Homo sapiens: one gene and its partner. The protein of the gene in region 2 purifies or fractionates together with the protein of the main gene of each other region. This does not show direct contact. Each region holds a gene or a part of one and is shown on either strand. Other genes may lie near its edges.

The links.
Region 1: the proteins of NAA30 (region 2) and ATP12A purify together in Homo sapiens (affinity purification with mass spectrometry; one large-scale study listed by BioGRID and IntAct). This does not show direct contact.

The regions. Positions count from the first base shown.
Region 1 is NC_000013.11:24,704,363-24,708,014, reverse strand, and holds part of ATP12A (potassium-transporting ATPase alpha chain 2), read right to left. Parts: intron 1,703-3,652; coding exon 1,552-1,702; intron 993-1,551; coding exon 824-992; intron 737-823; coding exon 582-736; intron 1-581. UniProt on the Homo sapiens protein: The catalytic subunit of a H(+)/K(+) ATPase and/or Na(+)/K(+) ATPase pump which transports K(+) ions in exchange for Na(+) and/or H(+) ions across the apical membrane of epithelial cells.
Region 2 is NC_000014.9:57,396,934-57,400,585, reverse strand, and holds part of NAA30 (N-alpha-acetyltransferase 30), read right to left. Parts: intron 759-3,652; coding exon 703-758; intron 1-702. UniProt on the Homo sapiens protein: Catalytic subunit of the N-terminal acetyltransferase C (NatC) complex. Catalyzes acetylation of the N-terminal methionine residues of peptides beginning with Met-Leu-Ala and Met-Leu-Gly.

The DNA of each region.
Region 1 (3,652 bases), on a different chromosome or scaffold from region 2:
CTGACCAATGGCATTTCTTTTTTTTTTTTGAGGATGAAGACTCATGTCTTGAAAAGCTTGCTATAGCTCAGGTGCAGTGACTCATGCCTGTAATCCCAGCACTTTGGGAGGCCGAGGCAGGTGGATCACTTGAGGCCAGGAAACCCCATCTCTACTAAAAATACAAAAATTAGCCAGGTGTGGTGGCACAAGCCTGTAGTCCCAACTACTTGGGAGGCTGAGGTGGAAGAATCACTTGAGCCTGGGAGGCGGAGGTTGCAGTGAGGCAAGATAGCACCACTGCACTCTAGCCTAGGTGATGGGAGTGAAACTCTGTCTCAAGAAAAAAAAGCTCACTATAGAGTGTTTTTAATTTCCAAACATTTGGCAGATGCCTCTGGTCCCTTGCTTTGAGGTGTGGCATGTGGACTGGTAGAATGGGCACCACCTGAGAACCTGTGAGAAATGCAGAGCTACAGGCCCCATCACATGGAAGCTGAGAAGCCTTGAGTTAGTCCATCCCCGGCCCTTGAAGGTAGCGACCCTGAACTTGACCTCCCCTGGGGCAGGCATCACAGCCTGTTCCCTTCAGTGTCACTTACAATGTCTGTCCCCAAGTCAATGAACAGAATGGTGATGGTGCCAATGGGCAGGGGGAGCCCGACAATGATGTAGATCAGAAAGGGGCACAGCTCGGCAATGTTCTTGGTCAGGGAATAAGCAATAGTCTTCTTGAGGTTGTCAAAGATCAGGCGACCTAGGCAGAGAGGTTTCTCCTTCAGAACTTACTTCTAGTCCCCCAGACCACCCTGGCCCTTGGGAAGACCCCCTGAGACTCACTCACCTTCCTCCACCCCTGTGACGATGGATGCGAAGTTGTCGTCCAGCAAGACCATGTCGGCTGCATTTTTGGCTGCATCAGAACCTGCTATCCCCATGGCAATCCCAATGTCTGCCTTCTTTAGAGCCGGAGAGTCATTAACTCCATCCCCGGTCACAGCAACAACAGCATCCTATGGCGGGGGACCCAGGGAGAAAGTGGGAGTGAGCAGGCCCAGTGGGTTGCAGGCCTGGCAAGAGCAACAAGACTTCCCTTTCTCTTGAGGTTGCGAGGATGATTATAGCTGAACGGAAAGGCCCATTTAGGGGAAAAGATAAAGATGAGAAATCTTAGAAGCAGGAACAAGGGTCTCCAAACAAGATACGTGCAAATGAGGAAAACCTAATGCGCAGGTGTCTTGTATCTTATGTCTTCACATTTTTTGTTTTAAATCTTTGCATTTTAAATCTCTCTTTACTCACAACTACCACAGTGGCAAATGCTTCACCGGGCTCTCATGACAAAATGCAGAGAGCTGGGGTGAGCCTTTCGGGGAACATGTGGTGGGGGTCTCAAAGGAGGACAGGGGCCAGCCCACCTGAGAGGTTGGAGAGGTCAGGTGATGGGGATGAGCCAAGAACTCTCTCTTGAAGTTTCAAAGGCACCACAGCCTGATGTGAGATCCAGACCTCTGCACTTGCCCATGGACAGTGATGGGCCTGTCAGTCCTCTGGACACTGCTGTCCACCCACCTGCCTCTGACAGCCCTCCACAATGATCAGCTTCTGCTGGGGGGATGTCCGGGCAAAGACAATCTCCTGGTAGTTGGCTAAGATCTCATCCAGCTGTTCTGAGCTCATGTCCTTCAGCTCCATGCCAGTCACCACAGCGGCCTTGGCATCCCTAGAAGGGCCAGAAGAAACTGGGTGAGGCCCAAGGGCAGATCTTAGGTTGAAACACTGTTCCAGGCAGGATGCTGGCTGAAGCCTCTCTGACTTGACCTGGAACCCAGTGTCCTTGATACCTAATGCTCTAGTGAGGTAACAGGAGTCCTGGGAACACTTTAGTCTCCATTTCAAGAGGGCAAACTGAGGCTAAAATATAACACCATTTCTTGGTACCATATAACAATAGGAATAAAAAACCAGGTAGCCTTATCCCTACTAGAACAGGTGAGAGTGGTACTTCCTAGAGCAACGCTTTACTTCAGAAGTAAAAGGAAGTTAAAAAACTGCCCATTCATGGCCAAACGCAGTGGCTCATGCCTGTAATCCCAGCACTGTGGGAGGCTGAGTAGGAGGATCACTTGAGGCCAAGAGTTCAAGACCAGCCTGGGCAACATAGTGAGAGCCCCTGTCTCTACAAAAAATTTTAAAAAATTAGCCAGGTATGGTGGCATGTGCCTGTGGTCCCAGCTACTCAGCAGGCTGAGGCAGGAGGATTGCTTGAGCCTGGGGGGTTGAGGCTGCAGTGAGCCATGATCATGCCACTACACTCAAGCCTGGGTGACAAAGTGAGACCCTGTCTCAAAAACAAAAATAAAAATAAAACCCCCAAACTGCCTGTTCATATGTTTTGGGTCCTAGAATTCTTTTATGGCCAAACAAGGGGTAATAATTACTTGCCGTTGGGTATTTCAGATTTACAGAGTGTCATCTTTGTGCAATGTGCTACGTAGGCAGAAGTTTACTGAAGTCTTTGAGCAGCGCTATTGCCTGCTGACTATAAAAGTAAGGTTCTAGGGCCTATTGATTATGCAGAGCTGCCTGAGCCAGTCCCCTGCTAAAACTCTTCAGGGGCTTTCCACCGTGCTTGGAGCAGACCCCGGAATCCCTAACTTTAGCCAGCGAGCCCAGGTGGGGCCTGCGTTGTCAAGCTTCGCCTCACCTTGGGCTCTCCCTCCTGCCCGCTGGATGCTCTCAGTTCTGACATCCTCCATCCCCTGTACCCTAAGGCCTTCACGGGTCTCGCTCCCTGACCAGGAATGGGCATCTCTCACCTCAGCTTCTCGTGGCTAACACTACATTTCAGCCTTCAAATCTCAGCTTAAACAATGTAGGTACAAACTGCTGCAGGTCTTTTTCTTTACAATTTGCAAGTTTTGAGCTTTCTAGGTCTGTTTTACCTCTTGGTGCTAAATACTGGAATTCTAGCACTTGACTCAAACTACAGGTCTCCTTAACCGCTGGCAAAAAAACAAAACAAAACAAAACAAAAGAAAGTAAGAGAAGAAAGAAGGGGTGTTTCCTTTCCCCTTACACCTGCTAAGATGCAATTTTTATATGGTCATGAAACTAGAGCTGATGAAGTGAATAACTGAAAACATTCACAAAAGCATCCACTTCACTCAGTGTGGTGATTTGTATACAAATGTGTAATCCACTCTTCCCTTTTGTGGCCATGAGCAGAGTGGCAGTGACCAAGAGGAAGTGCAGTCCCTTTGTGACTTTTGACTGAGGCAAGAATCATAAAAGTCATTTCAATGCACCTTCCCACATTCGTAGGAAGATTATGTCTTTCTCTCGTTCCAAAGAGCTGAGACAGAAGCACATTCTGGAGTCTGCTACAAGCACAGTTCCATCCATGCCCATCTGAAAGGATGAGGAAGTTGAGGTTGCACAAAGACACTATACGGGCCAGCAAATTGGCAAAGCAGTCCAGGTTTATAGGAAGAAATGTGCCACCTATACTGAACAGGAGCACAGGAGGAGGCTAAGGGCAGGACCGTCGTGTGCACGTCACCAGCACATGGCCATCACCAGGCTAAAACTAGACAAAGACCACAAAAGATCCTTGAATGGAAGGCCAAACAAATCTTCCTAAGTAGGGAAGGAAGGGCAAATATAAAAAAGA
Region 2 (3,652 bases):
AAAAGTACTAGTACAACTTTGCTCCTCCTTAGTCACCACTGCTATGTTAAAGACATCTATACTTCTCTAGTTTATACTTGTTCCCTTCCACACTGTGCAACAGTAAATGTTAACATTCCCAATCATCACCAATATTTATCATGCACCTACTATATGTAGAAACACCGTGCAGTAGGATACAAAGAAATATCTGCCATCAGACCTTACAAACAAGCTGAAGAGAGAAAATGCTCTTATGTTAATGCGCAGATAGCTCTACTCTTTAAAAGTGGTTGTCTTCCCCCTAGCCAACATTGTCATTATTTAATTCTGAAAAGATTATTTTCAAGTGTGAAATGTCCTCCATATAGACTGACAGTTTCCCATTGTCAGAAACTAAGGCCAATATGTAAGCAAATTATAACAGAGTCTGTAATAAGAGCTACCTTAAATAACTGATGATAAAGCCTCTGAATACCAAAATTGTGTACTGAAAATGTCTAAGATTCCCCCCACACATTTTGAAGAAATTTTAGCTCCATTTTAAAATTTGTTCTAGGTCAAAAATTCATGTGTTTTTAAATGGAATATAATTTTCCCCACAAGCTGCATTTGTATAGTAACACTGCAATGAAATCTGCAATAAATTATAAAATATTTATTAAAAATACCCAGAAAGAATAATGCCCAGATAAAAAATATTAAACATTTTTAAAGACTTACCTCATCACAGTCTCCCTCAACCATGGCATATATAGCTTTCTTAACCAAGTTAGTACCTAGAATATAGATCTGAGTATTAATGAAGGAAAAATGTATTTCTTAAAGATAACCTAAATTATAATATTCGTAAGCACAGAAATGTCAAATGCTAGTTTCTATCTTGAATCCAGATACACGGATTACCTCAAATTAAATGGGAAAAATTTTAGCTATAAGCTAAGAGAAGCCAACAGAACCTATACATAACAGTATGTTTCCTCTTGAAAGACCTATCTCCCAATATACTCCTTTTTCTCAGACATAATTATTTGCCACAAGCAGGAGTTTGTTCTATTGTGTTTGAAAGCAGTAGGAAAGCGAAAGAGAAAAAGACAAGATATGGTATGGCCAGAACAACGCAGGAACTCCCCGTGAGTTGGCCAGAACTTACTGCATAACCCAAGCTGATCTCACCAAAGATCCTTCAAACTCCCCTGGACACAAGGGACAAGACAACCTCATCAGAACTGCTGTTACCCACAGTAGGTTCCTATAAACTTTACAGTGAGCACGATGAAGTCTGGCAAGTCTGGCACTCCCAATGATGTCAGTGGTGTGTCTGTACATGTCTAGCAAAATGTATCCTAGTTTAGGGTCAAATATAATTGGTATATTAAAAGGGAAAAAATTTGCCAAATCTGATTTTAAGAGCAGACAGACAAATTTTATTTAAAAACTCTTAGGCTGGGCGCAGTGGTTCACGCCTGTAATCCCAGCACTTTGGGAAGCCAAGGCAGGTGGATCACTTGAGGCCAAGAGTTCAAGACCAGCCTGGCCAACATGGTGAAACCCCGTCTCTATTAAAAATACAAAAAATTGGCCAGGCGTGGTGGCTCACGCCTGTAATCCCAGCATTTTGGAGGCTGAGGTCATGGCAAAACCCCATCTCTACTAAAAATACAAAAAACTGGCTGGGTGCAGTGGCTCAGCCTATAATCCCAGCACTTTGGGAGGCCAAGGTGGGCGGATCACCGGAGGTCAGGAGTTCAAGACCAGCCTGGCCAACATGACGAAACCCCATCTCTACTAAAAAATAAAAAATTAGCCAGGCATTACAGGTGGAGGGTGCCTGTAATCCCAGCTACTTGGGAGGCGGAGGCAGGAAAATCACTTGAACACAGGAGGCGGAGGTTGCAGTGAGTCGAGATCATGCCACTGCGCTCCAACCTGGGCGACAGAGTGAGACTATCTCAAAAAAAAATAATAATAAAAAAAATAAATCAGCTGGGTGTGGTGGTGTGTGCCTGTAGTCCCAGGTGCTTGGGAGGCTGAGGCACAAGAATTGCTTGAATCTAGGTGCTAGAGGTTGCAGTGAGCCGGGATCACACCACTGCACTCCAGCCTGGGCAATACAGCGAAGCTCTGTCTCAAAAAATAATAAAATTAAATTAAAAACTCTTAATTTTCAAGCCATGCATACAAGTATGCACGCATTTTATGGCCCAAACAAAGTATGTCTGAAGGCCAGGATGCAACCCAAAAGCCACTGGTTTCTGCCCTCCAAACTAGCCAAACAATTGGCTATAATTTATCATGAGTCCTTATCAGTGCTTTTTAATGCATCAAAGGCTCAAACTTAGTCCATAAAACAAGCCCAATTCATTAAAAATCTTAGTGGAAAGCTGTAACACTGCAATAAAGTTGGCTAAACCTAACATATTAAGTAAACCTATTTATAGTTACTTCTCATGATACCTAGGACCGTGTGTGAGTCTTAGGTTGGACAATAACACTTAATAGTTTTTAAAAAACATGAAAGTGAAAAAACTAATGATTAAATACTGGTACAGGTATTAAACTTTTTTTTATGAATACTCAGCTAAAGCACATCACAAAATTTGACATGCTTAGACAAATGCTTGTCTACCCAATTCTCCACTGTGAACAAAGAGCCACTAGGTCCTAGAGAATAGAAGAGTGGTTTTTTGAAACGGAGTCTTGCTCTGTCACCCAGGCTAGAGTGCAGTGGCACGCTCACTGCAACCTCCACCTCCCAGGTTCAATCAATTCTCCTGCCTCAGCCTCCTGAGTAGCTGGGATGACAGGTGCCCACCACCACTCCCAGCTAATTTTTGTATTTTTAGTAGAGACAGGGTTTCGCCATCTTGCCCAGGCTGGTCTTGAACTCCTGACCTAGTGACTCACCTGCCTTGGCCTCCCAAAATGCTGGGATTATAGGCGTGAGCCACCGCACCCGGCACCTGGTGGCCTATTGAGTTTTATGGCGTTATTTAAATGACAAAAGTTATCTAACCCAGCCATAGAAGAGTGGTTCTTAATCAGGCTTACATCACAGTCACCTAGGGAAGCTTCAGCCCCACCTCTGACAAGACAAACAAGAGTCTCAGGGTGAGGGGCCCAAATACATGTTTTTAAACCACCCACATGATTCTAATGATCATTATAAATCATGAGTGTTAAGATTAACTAAACATGTCAGGAAAAGTAGACCCAACAAAAAATTAAGTTTGGGAATTACAAGAAACAATCAATTCTCATCTCCTGATCTTTCCTGAATTGCAATATATAGTTGATGACTAGCACCAAGTAATGGTAACAATTTGTCCATAATTTTGGCTTGATTGAGGTCCACTTAACCCAAATACAGACAAGTGCTTGAAGGCTGGCATGAAGGACCATCATAATGTAATTATAAATTGCAGTATTTCTTGTGGTACTTAGCATAATGCAAAGCATTTTGAATGTGATTAAAAAAATCTGCAGGTGAAAGCTGATGATCGGCTACTTGTTAAAACGAAAAACTGTCAAACAAAACATTAATAAAGAAAAAATTCATTTTAAGAACTTTTTAAAAATACCATTTTGAAATTAAAAATTAAAACCCGCCTTAATTTTCTTCCCTTAGTTTCTTTCATTTCTACATACTTACATTTAAGTCTTTTATTTCAAA